4 separate regions of the Homo sapiens genome follow, and regions 1, 2 and 4 are each reported to be linked to region 3. Evidence: microRNA targets listed by miRTarBase, many of them from high-throughput screens and not tested one by one. Region 3 holds a microRNA gene; each other region holds the end of a gene's coding sequence.

Evidence for each region. The annotated mature microRNA hsa-miR-2467-3p reads AGCAGAGGCAGAGAGGCUCAGG and lies in region 3 at 2,485-2,506, opposite strand. An mRNA with a match to its seed (bases 2 to 7 or 8) in the 3' UTR can be bound and repressed. Matches are read on the target gene's strand: a 7mer-m8 pairs with bases 2 to 8, a 7mer-A1 pairs with bases 2 to 7 and ends in A, and an 8mer does both.
Region 1: the mRNA of MPZL3 is a reported target of hsa-miR-2467-3p. Seed matches in the 3' UTR shown: 7mer-m8 at 1,191-1,197.
Region 2: miRTarBase lists FKBP8 as a target of hsa-miR-2467-3p. Seed matches in the 3' UTR shown: 8mer at 3,544-3,551.
Region 4: the mRNA of ZYG11A is a reported target of hsa-miR-2467-3p. Seed matches in the 3' UTR shown: 7mer-m8 at 2,677-2,683.

Annotation. Positions count from the first base shown.
Region 1 is chr11:118,226,189-118,230,253 of GRCh38, reverse strand. It overlaps MPZL3 (myelin protein zero like 3), which reads left to right. Exons shown (of 6, transcript NM_198275.3): 6 at 334-3,564. The coding sequence ends at 360. Among named protein-coding and RNA genes, the nearest start is that of JAML, 3.2 kb to the right of the region's middle.
Region 2 is chr19:18,528,597-18,532,661 of GRCh38, forward strand. It overlaps FKBP8 (FKBP prolyl isomerase 8), which reads right to left. Exons shown (of 9, transcript NM_012181.5): 9 at 3,167-3,659. The coding sequence ends at 3,573. Among named protein-coding and RNA genes, the nearest start is that of ELL, 8.6 kb to the left of the region's middle. RefSeq lists an enhancer at 912-1,797.
Region 3 is chr2:239,349,248-239,353,312 of GRCh38, forward strand. MIR2467 (microRNA 2467) reads right to left here and starts at 2,557; the gene lies at 2,477-2,557. It overlaps HDAC4 (histone deacetylase 4), which reads right to left. Exons shown (of 27, transcript NM_001378414.1): 2 at 3,431-3,671. The coding sequence starts at 3,452. RefSeq lists a silencer at 3,220-3,413.
Region 4 is chr1:52,892,576-52,896,575 of GRCh38, reverse strand. It overlaps ZYG11A (zyg-11 family member A, cell cycle regulator), which reads right to left. Exons shown (of 14, transcript NM_001004339.3): 14 at 1,578-3,794. The coding sequence ends at 3,619. ECHDC2 (enoyl-CoA hydratase domain containing 2) reads left to right here. Exons shown (of 10, transcript NM_001198961.2): 10 at 1-666. The coding sequence ends at 56. Among named protein-coding and RNA genes, the nearest start is that of ECHDC2, 27 kb to the left of the region's middle.

The sequences.
Region 1 (4,065 bases), not on the chromosome of region 3:
GAGGAGAGGATCGCTGGGGTGATTCCACTGACACTTGTTTTGCTAAGAAAGGGTGCGGTAGGCGGGCATCTTTTCTTGTGTGTTGAGGTTCTAAAAAATATTCACCAAGGGAAAGGAAACCACTAGGGCTTCAAAGCAGAAATTAGCCCAATAGACACCAATTATATTGAGGTCCTGTGAAGCTCCGTGGGAATTTAGGTGTATTGAGTCAGTGGCATTTCACTGTGGCTGTCTCCCCAAGCCAGGTTCCATTTGGAGGATCCTAACATGTGGTCTTTGCCTAAATTCCAACTCTGGAATTGTGTTTCACACCTGCTGTTTTGCTCCCTCCAGGATTCAGACTATGAAGAGACATATTGATGAAAGTCTGTATGACACAAGAAGAGTCACCTAAAGACAGGAAACATCCCATTCCACTGGCAGCTAAAGCCTGTCAGAGAAAGTGGAGCTGGCCTGGACCATAGCGATGGACAATCCTGGAGATCATCAGTAAAGACTTTAGGAACCACTTATTTATTGAATAAATGTTCTTGTTGTATTTATAAACTGTTCAGGAACTCTCATAAGAGACTCATGACTTCCCCTTTCAATGAATTATGCTGTAATTGAATGAAGAAATTCTTTTCCTGAGCAAAAAGATACTTTTTGATTCATCTTTGCTCTGGAATGTATTACATGTTTTCTTCCAACTGTTTGAAGGAGAATTTTGAATGTTTGCCACACCGCTGATACCCAAATAATTTTTTAAATGAAGTGGAGCTTGTGGCTTCCTGATGTGTCACCAGACAAAATATTCGCTTGGGATATGTATTCTTTGTTTTTTGCTCCATGTACACTTTCAGCTGTGAGTTAGTATAGGGCGTATACTTACCGGTTTAATGACCTCAACCTCAGTTGTGTTTGGATAACTTAGGGTGTATACCCTTAGTTTCCTTAGAGTTGGTAGGATCAAGTCATTGGTTTGCTTTGACTGGGTTTTTAAAGTATTAAGTACAGTGTCATCAATTTACAGTTAAGGAAAGGAATCGTGAAGTAGAAAAATTATTTTCTTTAGTCTTGCTGGTACAATTTGGGCTAAGGAGTCTTTGTTATTTTCTGTCTTGCTTTTTTTTTTTTTTTTTTTTTTTTGAGGCAGAGTCTCACTCTGTCGCCAGGCTGGAGTGCAGTGGTGTGATCTTGGCTCACTGCAACCTCTGCCTCCTGGGTTCAAGCGATTCTTGTGCCTCAGCCTCTCGAGTAGCTGGGATTACAGGCATGCGCCACCACACCCAGCTAATTTTTGTGTTTTTAGTAGAGACGGGGTTTCACCATTTTGGCCAGGATGGTCTCAATCCCCTGACCTCGTGATCCACCTGCCTCGGCCTCCCAAAGTGTTGGGATTACAGGCATGAGCCACTGTGCTTGGCCTGTTATTTTATTTTCTTATAACTACAACTTTTCTTCTTGAATTTTCAGGTCAGAGGCAAGAAAAACTCTTTACAGGTTTTTAGTGGGGGGCTTATGGAGTATTTCAGGAGTTCTTTGCAAATTAAATCATCTTTTCACTTGTATTGTTTTTCAAAACTTTGTTGATTTCTAAAATGTGCCAACTGTGAGTAAACTATGGTATTTGCAAGTGGTTTTTACATAATATTTGAGATGAGGAAGTGAGATTGTGCATGACATACTTCTCCTTTGTATTCTCTCAGTGCCTTACAGCAGGTTACTCCATTCTGCTATGACAACTTGTTTCAAATGTTAATTTACATAGGATTTTTTATAAGCCATTAAGGCATATGTATAGTATATCAGTAAAGATGGATGGTGCATATATAAATAGTCTTCTGTAATAGTGATTGGATTTACTTCTCAATTATGAGAGACAAAAATTATCCCCTCACCTGTCTCTATTCTTTCAACAGGTTGATCCCTTTTCATGATTTTTCATTAGGTGGTTCAGGAAGTTTCCATATTACAGCGCTTCAGACTGTATATGTTAGTTTAAAAATCACTTTTCTCTCTCTCAACTTCTTTCTTTTTTTTTTGAAGACTTAATTTAAAAAATTTGGGTTGTTAGATCCGTATCATAGATTTGGCCTAGCCTCTTCTGTTAACCTAGTCCACAGATGAGCGAATCTGGTTAGTTGAAGGACATTGTGATTTGACTCTGGTCACGCGAGGAAGTAGAAGGGCAAAGACAGGACCGGCAGTTTACATTTCCAGTGGTTAAACCTCACGGTACTTTGGGACTGCTTGTTAACTTTTGTGGTTGTCTGAGGCCAATCTAACGTGACCATTTCTGACACCTCAACAGAGAGAGGAAAGCAACTTGAGCAATGAGAGTAAATAACTTGGGCTCTCAGAGATTTGAAGATAGAGATCTCATTGTGAGGGGGACTATTTTGCAGGTCCTCATTTCTCCAAGAAAGAGATGGTGTTACAGGAACCCACTGAAAGCCATATCCCATTAAATGAGGAACTAATTTTGGCTGGGCCTTCTTGTAATGTCCTCGCAGGTGTGTTGTGAAGATTAATGCAGGGTAGTATGTTTGTAGATTGACACCTAGTCTAAACTTGAGGTAATTGGTGCTCTGTGAATACTCAGTCGTGTTCTTTTATAGCCTTAATCATGATTTGAACTAGTCCCTTGCTTTTTAAATGACTGAATGAAGTCCTTCGTGGTAAGGGAGTACGTTGATAACTTAGTTTACTATATGGGTTTGTGGTCGCATCCCAGTCATCAGCTGCTATCATTTTCCTTCTTCATCCCTTATACTGAGATTTGGGTTACAGCTTTTTATTCTTCGAAGGATCACAAAGCAGTGTACAGACACCTGCCTTCTTTAAGGATGAAAGGAAGATAAAGTGGTCTTTTTTTGTTTACTTATTTGTTTCACCTCTTGTTTGAGTAACTTCTAAGGTGCTATTCTCTCTCTCTTTTTGCTACCTCATGAGCTCTTGTCACAGCCATGGAAACCAGCCTCGTTTAGAAAGGGAACTTAGTTCAGAAGGGGTTAAAAGCCTTCCAGAATTTTTCTTTAGCTGCTGAAGTTTTTACATGTGGTTACATGACTTTAAGTTTTATGCATTACGCTCTTAATTCTATTACAAAATGTGGACTCACCAATTGCTTTGTGTTTTCCATGTGACCTGTTACTTCAGGCTACTTGGGGAACATCTTAGTCCTCTGTAGCTCCTGAACCCAGCACTGGTGCTTCAAGAGAGAAGGTAGCACGTCTTTGTTCAAAACAAAACAAAACGACACTTCTGGAGGCCACATCCTGAATATGAATGTTCTACTAAGTCACTCAGTTATGGTTCTAAAGGGAAACTGTAAGAAGACCCACAAGGAGTGGACCAAGACTATTATTTAATTGCACAACTTGAAACTTTGCTGCCAGAAGAGGCAGCTCCATTCCTTTGACTCCAGTGTTGGGCTGTTAACTGCTGCACCTCATTGCCTTTTTTTGTTTTTGTTTTTGTTTTGTAGGAGGGTAGGCACTGTTGGGCCATATGCACAAATATTGTAACTCTTGGTATCTTTACTGCATCATAGTCAATAAACTTCTTTGTACCCTTTGGCTACCTTTTGGTGTGTGCATATCTACATAAAAGGTGGGAATTGTCATGTGAAAAAGATGGGGGTTTGTGGTATTAAAAGCTGAATTAAATTTAAAAGAGTTTAATTGAGCACAGAATGATTCATGAATCAGGCAGTCTCCTGAGCCAGAGTGGACTCAGAGACTCCAGCGCAGCCACGTGGTGGAAGATTTATGGACAGCAAAAGGAAAGTCATGTACAGGAAACAGAAGTGAGGTACAGAAATAGCCGGATTGGTTACAGCTCGGTGTTTGCCTTATTTGAATAGTTTGAATCATTGGCCATCTTCGATTGGCCAAACTCAGTGACTGGCACAAGAGTAGACTAGAGTCCGTATACTATTCCATTTACGTTATAGTTCATGATGTACAGAGAAACCTTTAGGCCAAACTTAAAATATGTAAGGAGGCAGCTTTAGGCTAAACTTGATTTAACAGTGGTTTTCAGCATCGTGCAACCAGTCATGTCGGAGCTGTACCCCCGCAA
Region 2 (4,065 bases), not on the chromosome of region 3:
AAAGAAAGTTAATCACCAATGTGGTGAAACTCCGTCTCTACTAAAAATACAAAATTAGCTGGGCGTGGTGGCACGCACCTGTAATCCCAGCTACTCAGGAGGATGAGGCAGGTGAATCCCTTAAATTCTGGAGGCGGAGGTTGCAGTGAGCCAAGATGCACCACTGCACTCCTGCCTGGATGACAGAGCAAGACTCCATCTCAAAAAAAAAAAGGCCAGGCGAGGTGGCTCATGTCTGTAATCCCAGCACTTTGGGAGGCCGAGGCGGGTGGATCATGAGGTCAGGAGTTCAAGATCAGCGTGGCCAACATGGTGAAACCCCGTCTCTACTAAAAATACAAAAATTATCTGGGCATGGTGGCGTGTGCCTGTAATCTCAGCTACTCGGGAGACGAGGCAGGAGAATCGCTTGAACCGTGATCTGGGAGGCAGAGGTAGCAGTGAACAAGATCATGCCACTGCACTCCAACCTGGGTTACAGAGCGAGACTGTCTCAAAAAAAAAAAAAAAAAAATTAGTCAAGCTTGGTTGCGTGCCCCTGTAATCCCAAGCTACTTGAGAGGCTGAGGTGGGAGAACTGCTTGAACCCTGGAGGCGGAGGCTGCAGTAAGCTAAGATTGGGCCACTGCACTCCAGCCTGGGTGACAGAGCAAGACCCCATCTCGAAAATAAATAAATAATAAAAAAAATTGGCCAGGTGTGGTGGCGTGCACCTGTAATCCCAGCTACTTGGGAAGCTGAGGCAGGAGAATCGCTTGAACCCGGGAGGCAGAGGTCAGAGGTTGCAGTGAGCTGAGATCATGCCACTGCACTCCAGCCTGGGTGACAGAGCTGGCATGCAAAAAAAAAAAAAAAAAATTAGCTGGGTGTGGTGGCACATGCCTGTAATCCCAGCTACTTGGGAGGTTGAGGCAGGAGAATTGCCTGAACCTGGGGCTAACCACTGGAAAGAGAGCACAGCCTCAAGCCACACTCAGCCTCAAGTCATCCAGGTGACCCAGAGAACAAGGGCCTGGAAGAAGCGGGTGAGTGGGTGAGGTGGAGGTGTAGATTGGAGTCCTAGGCCTTTGGGAGGCCCTCCAACCTCCCTTCTGCACCAACTTCTCCTGGGTGGCTGTGGCAGGCAGCTTTCCCTCCTGGGCTGTAAGGGGATAGATGCAGGTGAGGTGACTGTAGTGGTCTATTTTCAAGGATGCCCTTATTCTTGGGGGCAAGATGGAACAGCAGGAAGAAAGGGTGTGGGTGCTGGGCTGACAGAGGCCCCGATGCTGGCTCCGCCCATCCTGGCTGCACTGGTGAGCGGCATCATAGGAGAAGCTCCCAGAGTCCAGAGTTGGGAGAGCCAGATGGGATCAGGGAACCTCCCAGCATCAACCCTGGCCCTTCCTCATGGCCCCTAAAGCCCTGCAGGGTATGGCTCTGCAGGCTACCCAGCCTCATCCATCTGGAATGCACCAGGCTAGACCTGGCCCCAGGGTCTTTGTACTGGGCGTGCTGTTGCCCAGACCTGGGGCTGTCGGCTTCCTGCATGGGCAGACCCTTGCCATCGCTGAAATATCAGCGCACACATCCCCTGGGAGAGGTCTTCCTGGGCCTCCAGCTGTGCCTTCTCACAGGCTGCATCCAGACATTCACATCCTCTCCCCTGGACCCCATCTGTCTCTTGTTTTGAGATGAAGTCTCCCTGTGTTGCCCAGGCTGCAGTGTAGTCCCATGATCTCGGTTCACTGCAACCTCTGCCTCCCGAGTAGCTGGGATTACAGGCATGTGCCACTACACCCAGCTAATTTTTGTATTTTAAGTAGAGCTGGGGTTTCACTATGTTGGGCAGGCTGGTCTGGAACTCCTGAGCTCAAGTGATCCACCCACCTCGGCCTCCCAAAGTGCTGGGATTACAGGTGGGAACCACTGTGCCTGGTGCACTTTTTTTTTAAACATAGATGGAATCTCACTGTGTTGACCAGGCTGGGCTCAAGCGACCCTCCCACCCTGGCTTCCAAAGAGCTGAAATTACAGGCCATGACACTACACCCCACCTCTTTATTAAAAAAAAAAAAAGGCCGGGCGCGGTGGCTCACGCCTGTAATCCCAGCACTTTGGGAGGCCAAGGCAGGTGGATCACGAGGTCAGGAGATCCAGACCATCCTGGCTAACACGGTGAAACCCCGTCTCTACCAAAAATACAAAAAATTAGCCAGGCGTGGTGGCAGGCGCCTGTAGTCTCAGCTACTCGGGAGGCTGAGGCAGGAGAATGGCATGAACCCGGGAGGCGGAGCTTGCAGTGAGCCAAGATCACGCCACTGCACTCCAGCCGGGGCCACAGAGCAAGACTCTGTCTCAAAAAAAAAAAAAAAAAAAAGAGCCGGGCACGGTGACTCACACCTGTAATCCCAGCACTTTGGGAGGCCTAGGCAGGCAGATCACAAGGTCAAGAGATCAAGACCATCCTGACCAACATGGTGAAACCCTGTCTCTACTAAAAATACAAAAATTAGCTGCGCATGGTGGCGTGCGCCTGTAGTCCCAGCTACTCGGGAGGCTGAGACAGAAGAATTGCTTGAACCCGGGAAGTGGAGGTTGCAGTGAGCAGAGATCGTGCCACTGTACTTCAGCCTGGTGACAGAGTGAGACTCCGTCTCAAAAATAAATAAATAAATAAATAAATAATAAAAAGAGAGACCTCACTCTGGTGAGGTCTTCCAGCCTAGGCTGGAGTGCAGTGGTGCAATCATAGCTCACTAAAGCCTCAAATTCCTGTGCTCAAGTCATCCTCCTACCATCTGTCTCTTTTGAATTCAGTACATCCACTAGGTAAAGCAATGATGCCACAGAACCCATGCAGCAGCCTCAAGGTAGGGCCCACTGGGGTCCTGGATTTCAGGTGAGTAAACAGTGAACGCTGGGGTAACGAGTGGAGCTGGGCAGTAACACCCCCAGAGTCCAGCTGAGTCAGACCTCTCAACCCACTTGCCCCTGCTACATCACCCCACTTCTCTATGCCTCAGTTTCTCCTCTGTAAAGTGAGTATGTTGTGCCCGGAGAGGAGACCCCCAGCTCCAGCTGGCTCAACCACATCCACCATGCTGTGTGACTCCAGATGCATCACAGGCTGTCTCTGGCCCAGCCCCAGACAGCGGGAGAAGAAAGCTCAGGAGTCCGTGGAAACTGCAGGGTGGGATGCTTTATTTCACTGTGGCGGGGAGGGAACCTGGACAGGGGGCGGCAGGCGGGGTGGGGGGCTGGCACTCAGGCGGGGACTAGGCAGGGGAAGGGCTGCCCCCAGGCCTGTTGAGGAGAAACTGAGGCCAGCCCTGGCGGAGACCTAGCCCAGCGGGGTAAGGAGGGTGGGGGAAAACTGGGTCTGAAGGAATGAGGGCCCCCTCCCTCTGGGCTTTCCTCCTAGAGGGCCTCAGTCCCTCCTGCTGGCTGGGCTGCACGACCCCCAATCCTTGCTCCCCTAACCCGGAGGAGGGGGCCAGACCAGGGAGGGCAGTGGACAGGGAGCCTGGGGGAGTTGGGGAGCGCAGGGCAGGGTCCATGGTGTGCAGAGGGGGTGGCAGCCACCTAGGTGGTCAGTTCCTGGCAGCGATGACCACAGAGAGTGCCACACCCCCCAAGGCAACAGCAGTCGCCCCAAACAGCCACTTCCATGGGATGGACTGTGGATAAAAAGGAGGGGAGAGAAGGGTGGAGGGAGGTCAAGACTGGCCTCTGGGGCCTCAGCTGCCAGCACAGCCCAAACAGACCTCCCAACAAATCATTGCCTGACTATGTATTTCCCACTTCCTGGCAAACTCCTACTCATGCAGCAAAACCCAAATCAAATGGCCCCTCCTCCAGGACACCGCCCCTCGTGCCCTGGAAGAGGCTCCACAGTCCACCCCCAGCCCTCCAGCTTGAGTTCCACCTTCGACTCCACTCATGATCACACAGGGCTGGGCTCTCTCCACGTCCCCTGCATCGCCCAGGACGGCCCAGTCTCCGAGGACATCCATGTATGCAAAATAAAATCCCTCTGCTAGGCGTGCCCTGCACACAGCCCCTGCCCATTCTGTGCCCCAGCTC
Region 3 (4,065 bases):
GGAGGGGAGGTGCAGCCAGGTAGGCCCCGAACACCACGTTGCCAGGACTCGGCTCCTCGGCTCAAGGAAAAGGGACAGCGGTTCCGTGGCTGTGCTCTGACACACCTAGAAATTTCCCGCTCAAGAGAGCAAACTGAATCCTTTAGTATTAATGATTTCTCTTCCTCCCAAAACCCACTAAAATGATGAAAAGCAGGATTGGAAAGCACTTCCAGCAATGCCTGGGAGCGGACGGACAGGTGCATCAGCTGACAAGAAACACAGAGGAACTTCCCGAAACTAGAGATCTCTGGGGATGGAGCTGCTTGGGAAGGCACACAAGCGAGTGGGCCTCGCCCAGGAGGGAGGGCACGGTTCTGGGCAAGCCCCATCCCCCGCCTGAGACGTGGGCAGAGGCCGCTGGGCCACCAGCCAGTGTGTGCAGGTGGTGGTATGCACGTGTTGGGCACAAGGGGTCCTGCCTCCCAAGGGACCTCCGGGCGGAAGGGCAGACACGGCAGGGAAAGATGACAGCGGACAGGGCAGAGGAGGCAGCCAGCAGACTTCAGGCCCCAGGCAAACCACCTCAGCTGTACCCCCTGCACAGATGGAGAGCAGAGAATGGGCTGGGCCAAGGGGCAGCCCTGCCCTCACCAGTGCGGCCTGTCTTCAGCCTCCAACCCACTGAGAGAGAGAATGGAGAGGTCGTGGGTGGCAATAAGGCGCACACAACCCAACTCACATGGGCAGGACAGGCCCGGGCAGGCCGGTGATCAAACTGAACCGCAGCGGCTGAAATTCCCACAGAAAAGGCCAAACAAACCCAGCACCCCGCGGTTTCCAGAGCTGAGCCTCAAAGAACCCGGCCTGAAAAGGTTAGAGACAAGCGGATGGAGAAATATTTGTTAGCCAAAAGAAACCAAGGGTAGAAATACCTCATGAAACACTATAAGCTCTCGGTCAAAGAAACATTAAACAAAGAGAAATATATTATATTTTGATAAGAGACCTGATCTACCAAAAGAACAGTCATTAATTTTTAAGCTTTAAAAAAAAACACTGAACTATATAAAGCAAAAAATGGTTATTAATGTAAAAAGAATATTATAAGACTATAATCACAGTAGAAAAATACACTTTTCCAAGAAATCGAGCAGACAGAAAAAAATAAGTAAAGCTATACTGATTTAAATAACTCAACTGAGTTAATATATAATTAAAACAACATATAAAGAAAGGATACATATCCTCCTATATATAAATAAAATATATATAAATGAGAGAACTTTTTTTTTTGAGACGGAGTCTTGCTCTGTCGCCAGGCTGAAGTACAGTGGCGCAATCTCAGCTCACTGCAACCTCTGCCTCCCAGGTTCAAGCGATTATCCTGCCTGAGCCTCCTGGGTAGCTGGGACTACAGGCACACGCCACCACGCCCAGCTAATTTTTGTATTTTTAGTAGAGATGGGGTTTCACTATGTTGGTCAGAATGGTCTCAATCTCTTGACCTTGTGATCTGCCCACCCTGACCTTCCGAAGTGCTGGGATTACAGCTGTGGGCCTCTGCGCCCGGCCGAGAACTTTAAATACAATATTGATACATACATACAGACGTCTTTAGACTGAAACAAAATCCTAAGAGCATACTTTCTCTTCAAATGCCTGCAGAGCATGTACAAATTATGATTATGTGTACACCAAGTCATACAAAAATATGCACCCCCATTAAAATAATCAAGTGTACTCAAACAATAATTTTCCCATAGCACACTGACAAAAATGAGAGAGACTGAACCTACCCAGTGCTGGTACAGCACAAATGAAAAATATGCATCCTCTTACACTGGAATTAGGAAGATCAGTTGGAACGAGGCTTCTGGAGCAATTTGACAGTCAACCTAATGATGTTTTAAGTGCACGGGCTCACTGACCCAGCTTCCACTTCCTGGAATTTGTCTAGTAGTGATACTTAGAAGTTTACAAAATATATGTATAATAATTGTTTGATGCCAATTTGGAATTGGTATAAACACTGCTACAACCACATAAATATCCATTCGCAAGGTATCAAAAGAGCAAGTTATATTTGCACACATACTGATACCAAAAGATGCTTATAACACATTAAAATGGACAGAATGTAAAACACAGGGCCCTGCCTATAGAATTATACTCTATGAAAATGCTCACACACATCACACTATGTTTAGACACAGAAAAAAGATACACTCTCACCCAACAGCAGCCCAGTGTAGGAGGGAGAGAGCCAGCTCCATTCAATGTCTATTTAGACACTTTGAGCCATAGCGCTTAATTTTGTCTTGGAATGATCATAAACCATTTCTTTACATCAGTCAATACATAAACAATTTAACTCAATAAAACTTTCATATCTAAAAAAACCTGGAATCTTGCCCTCTGGAATTTTCAGACAAAGACGATTCCACCCAGGGAAAGATGTGTGTAAGCGTTCCGGCAATCTCAAAGAGAGTGACCCAGACAGACCCTGAGCCTCTCTGCCTCTGCTCTAAGGAGCAGGACCCAGAGCCAAGGCTAACAGAGCCTCAGGTGCCTGTCCAAGCGTCTGTCCAGTGGCCACCGTCTTCTCTCTCATGTGGACGCAAGACAGAAGTCGATGGCTAAGTGCCCTTGAAGGCCACGGTGCGCTGGAAGTGGCAGGAAGCTGGGCAGCACAGGACTGGCTCTGCAGGAGCCCCACACTCAGGCAGGTCGGCGGCAGGCCTCGAGGTTTCATTATGGTGCACGCTCTCGGTGACTTTCCAAGGACAGAAAGTGTGAAGTCGTAAATGGATGGGCCCATGACATGCTTCTGAAGCTCAGAGCAGGACAAGCTTGCTTCCCAATCATGTGGGTCCCCCACCTACCAGCTCTGTGACCTCAGGCAAATTACTTCTTCCCTCCAGGCCTGAGATGATCTGGGGCTGTACTAAATGCTTGTAAAATGCTTAGTGCAGCCCCTCACAGAGGCCCTCAAACACCAGGAGCAACTGTGGCCACGACCTCAGTGGGAACATGAGCTTCTTCCCAGACAGCCCAGACGCCCAGTTGGAGGAGCACTCCCACCCCTCACACAACCCCTCATGAAACAACAAAGACACTGGGCAAGAAACCAGCTCTCCACATCACAACCTGACCTTTCAACATCACCCTTGTCAAAAAGCATCGAGGAAACCTGTGTGCCTCTCAAGTCAGCCTGCAAACCGGGGTCGCAGACTTGACTCCACATCCTCCCAGGTTTTATCATTCTTCTTTCACCAAGAGGAAGAATAAACCATCCATTTTGCACTTTGTGCTGTCAAAAACCAACAGTGACCACTATCAAGAAAAACAAAAGTCTCAAATCCAGAAAGCAAGCTGCAGTCACAAGAACTTCTACTTTGGGCAAAGAAAGCCCCGCTGTGTGCCCAGAGAAGAAATGACCCGGCCTTACCTGGATGGCTTTGGGAGCTCATTGCTAGCAATGTCCACTCCTTTAAGTGATTCGAAATGGCTCAAAATTTCCACGGAAACGATAGCTCCAACGAGCTCCAAACTCCCACCAACACATACAAGTACCGGGACGGTGAGGGCTGGGTCACAGACGTTCAAGCGCCGAGCCTCGCCGGCAAGGTCTCATGAGCCAGGTAACCCACAAGTTGAACAGAGGCGTCCGCTGGCTTCTGCAGATGAACCTGCAAGGTCAGAAGGAGAAAAGAGACTGGAGTTACAACATGGAAGTTCCGATCTGGAAAACAACATCCAACTAGGGAAATGATGACTTCCTCTTTTTTTTTGGAGACAGAATCTTGCTCTATCGCCCAGGCTGGAGTGTGGTGGCACGATCTGGGCTCACTGCAACCTCCACCACCCCTGCAACCCTGGGTTCGAGCAATTCTCCTGCCTCAGCCTCCCGAGTAGCTGGGAACACAGGTGCATGCCACCAGGCACAGCTAATTTTTGTATTTTTAGTAGAAACGGGGTTTTGCCATGTTGGCCCAGGCTGGTCTCAAACTCCTGACCTCAAGTGATCCACCCACCTCAGCCTCCCAAAGTGCTGGGATTACAGGCTTGAGCCACCACGCCCCA
Region 4 (4,000 bases), not on the chromosome of region 3:
TAGAGGGCATGGCAGCCTTCAGGGAGAAGCGGACTCCCAAATTTGTTGGCAAATGACCCCCATTTTAACCTTCAGCATGGGAGATGCATGCCCTGAAGAGCAGGATCCAGAAGGAAGATTTGTGGCCAGATTGCCTTCATCATTTCACCTCTCCAGACTTCCATTTCTTCACAAGGATGATGATGGAAATAAAATGACTGGCGTGATGCCTGGAACCAAGGTGCTGATCCTACCACCTACTGCTACCTTCCTTAGCTTCACCCTGGCTAGAAATAATCACGAGGGTTGGGTTTGCTTTGGAAAATGCCTGTCTCTCTACTTGAATGATAAAGAATTAAATTAGATCTCTCTGAGTCTTGGTATCATTGGCTCTCAGCCCCTGACCTCTCTCAGTTATCAGGCACTCATTAGAGATGTCAGAAGATTTTAAGATACCCCTAGTTTCTTCCTGTGAACAACAGAGGTAATAAATAAACTCTGACATCGGTTGAACATGTGTCAGGGGTCAGACTGCAGATCCCAGTCTCTGCCAGTTACTTGCTGTATAACCGTGGACAAATTGTTTAAATGCTCTGGGCCTCAGCTTCCTCACCTACAAAACAAAACTTGTGAAGATTTAGCAAAATAAAAACACTTCATATTCAATAAATATGTTTTAATTGTTAACTTACAGTGTTTTCGTGAGGACCAAACGAAATCATCACTGTGAAACACTTTTGTAAACTACAGGGTGGCAGAAAATTCTTTTTATTTTTTGAGACAGGGTCTCACTCTGCCACCCAGGCTCCAGGCTAGAGTGCAGTGGCGCCATCTCAGGTCACTGCAGCCTCCACTTCCCAGGCTCAAGTGATCCTCCCACCTCAGCCTCTGGAGTAGCTGGGACTACAGGCAAATGCCACCATGCCCAGCTAATTTTTGTATTTTTTTGTAGAGACAGGATTTCGCCATATCACCCAGGCTGGTCTTGAACTATTGGGCTCAAGCAATCCGCCCGCCTGGGCCTCCCAAAGTGCTGGGATTACAGGTGTATGCCACTACACCTAGCCTCCAGGAGACTCTTTGATAGCATTTAGGAGCACTGAGAAGAAAGGGGCAATTAACTCTAATGGAAAGAAGGGAGGATCCGGAAATGGGCAACTAACATTGGAATTGAAGCCTGAAGGATTAAGGAACATTTCAAGTACAGAAGAGGAAGCTTGACACAGCATGAGCAAAGGTGAGGAAGAGGATGATACACTTAGAAAACCAAGAGCAGGCTGATACATAACCATACTGGTCCCAATACCCCTCCCTCCTCTGGTACCAAGGCTACATCTTAAGCTATGCCTTTGCAGTCATTCTCCAACTGGATCTGAGCGCTGGCTAAGCTGAGCCTCAGCCTGGCCTAGAGTCACTAAACCATGGGCATGGATACAATATAAATAACATTGCGGATTTCTGCAAAATACAAATGTGCTCCCAGGGTTATGCTTGCATCCTGGAAGGAAGAATAACACAGGAGAGCCCAGGCCTTTACAGTCAGCACAAACCACACCAGCTATGACAACCCAGGAAAGTAACCACCTTACTGAACTTCCTTTTTCTCATCTGTTAAGTGAGGAAAATAAAACTCACCTACCCGTGAGGATTGTTGTGAATGACACAGAACTTGAAAGGATGTCTTGTACAGAATTGGACTTAACACACTAGTTCCCCTAACACATCCTCACATTAGAATAAGCTAGCATCTGATAACAATGCTCTGAGGTACTAGAACCCAGGTCAGGAAGATATCCTTTTGGAATCATGCAAGAGTGTGAAAAAATACAGTACAGTTTAAGGACTATGGAAGGAAGTAAGGTTACAAATTCTGCTTATCTGGTTGGACTCTGGTAATAGTTTGGAACATGGTTTAGAGTAAGAGAATGAGCTTCTTCCTCATTTGATTTCCAAAGACAGTACATGGTACTCTAGTTAAGAATCTGAACCAAGCCAGCCAAAAGCACAAAAATCTAATCCTAAAATGTGCTAACAGAAATTTACTTTTATTTTCTGAAAAACTTAAACAGATAAATGACAAAACATGTTCATTAACAGTCAACAATAAGGCAAGGAAGGAATTCACACTATTCCTCAGAGCAGCTCCGCAAGGCTTATCAAGTAAGCTTCTGATATAGTTTATACTGTAGTTGAAGCTGGTTTCAGAAAAGCCCATGTTTTCTTTAGTCAGCATGCGGGGTAAGAAAACTCCGTGAACTCTCTGGCAAAGTCTCTTTCTGGCCTTTCGTCTTCCTACCATTTTTGGTCATGGTTCCACCCAAATAAAATGGAGGGATTCAGATTTATCATTACATGTAATCTTTCATCTAAACACTGTCTGCAAATGCCTAAGTCCCACCACGCCCTACAAGCTCACTCACATACACAGCATGTCATGCTCACATAACAGGAAACATGCCAAAGATAGACACCCAAAATTGTAAAAAGGCCAGGTGCAGTGACTCACACCTGTAATCCCAGCACTTTGGGAGGCCGAGACGGGTGGATCACGAGGTCAGGAGGTCGAGACCAGCCTGACCAATATGGTGAAACCCTGTCTCTACTAAAAAATACAAAAATTAGCCGGGCGTGGCGGCATGTGCCTGTAGTCCCAGCTACTCAGGAGGCTGAGGCAGGAGAATTGCTGGAACCTGGGAGGCAGAGGTTGCAGTGAGCCGAGATTGTGCCACTGCACTCCAGCCTGGGCGACAGAGCGAGATTCCGTCACAAAAAAAAAAAAAAAAAAAAAGGTAAAAAAATATATTTCTCTTTTCTCCACCCCTCTATTCATTTGAGATGAGGTCTCACTCTGTCATCCAGGCTGGAGTGCAGTGGTGCAATCTCAGCTCACTGCAACCTCTGCCTCCTGGGCTCAAGTGGTCCTCCCACCTCAGCCTCCAAGTAGCTAGGAGTAAAGGTGCACACCACCACGCTCAGCTAATTTTTGTATTTTTTGGTAGAGACGGAGTTTTACCACGTTGGCAAGGCTGATCTCGAACTCCTGAGTTCAGACAATCCACCTGCCTTGGCCTCCCAAAGTGCTGGGATTACAGGCGTGAGCCACCATACCCAGCCATAGATAAATAAATAAATAAATAAATTCTTTTCCCCGCTCTCCAACAGGGGTTCTGCCTTCTAAACACTACATTTTGAAGCATATGCTTCCCAAGCTTTTCTCATAGCTTCACATGACGATAACAACAAAGGAAATTTAATATAAATATCAAAGTCTCCCTGTAGGTTTCCTTTCTCTTCTAGTGAACAGGTCCCACTCCCATGACAAGCTCCCAAAGGGAAAAAATTGTCCAAGGCTAGAGAAAAGTAACTTGCATAGCTGTTCCAACACAAGCTCCCAGGCCTTCCCAGAGTCCACGGTTTGAGTCTTCAAAATTGCTGCTGAAAGGCTGCAGAATGAGTCCAACTTGACTTGGGATTACAGCTATCATACAAATCCAACCTTTTGTAACATATATAAAATCAACAATCAAAGGCCAATGAGACAGCCAACTCACAAACTCCAATGACAACTGATGTGCAATTACTGCCAGGGCAGAACACCTGACATTGAGGAAGAGCACACACCTCTGAAATTCCTTAGGTTCAGAAGGGCATTTGACACAGAGTGGGCCTCTGATAATTCATGAAATGCATTCTGAAGTCATCCAGAATGGAGGCTGCAATCTGCTGTGCTTTGGGGGTTGCCTCACTGTGCTCCTGGATATCACACAAAAGCTGCAATCCTTCTTCTTCAACTAACATTTTGCAGTATTTGCTGGCTGAAAGAAAATCAAGCAGAGACACTCCATGGACAACTGGCATTTTAAATACTCCCATGTCACCACATTCACCTTGCTGAAGAAACAATACAAAGGTTTAAGCTCTTTGGCCTAGGAATTAACAGATAAAATGAGTCAATTCTAAAGCAGTTCTTCAAAACTTGCTTGGCTTGTATGAGGTAACAGATGCTCATTTTAGTATGTTT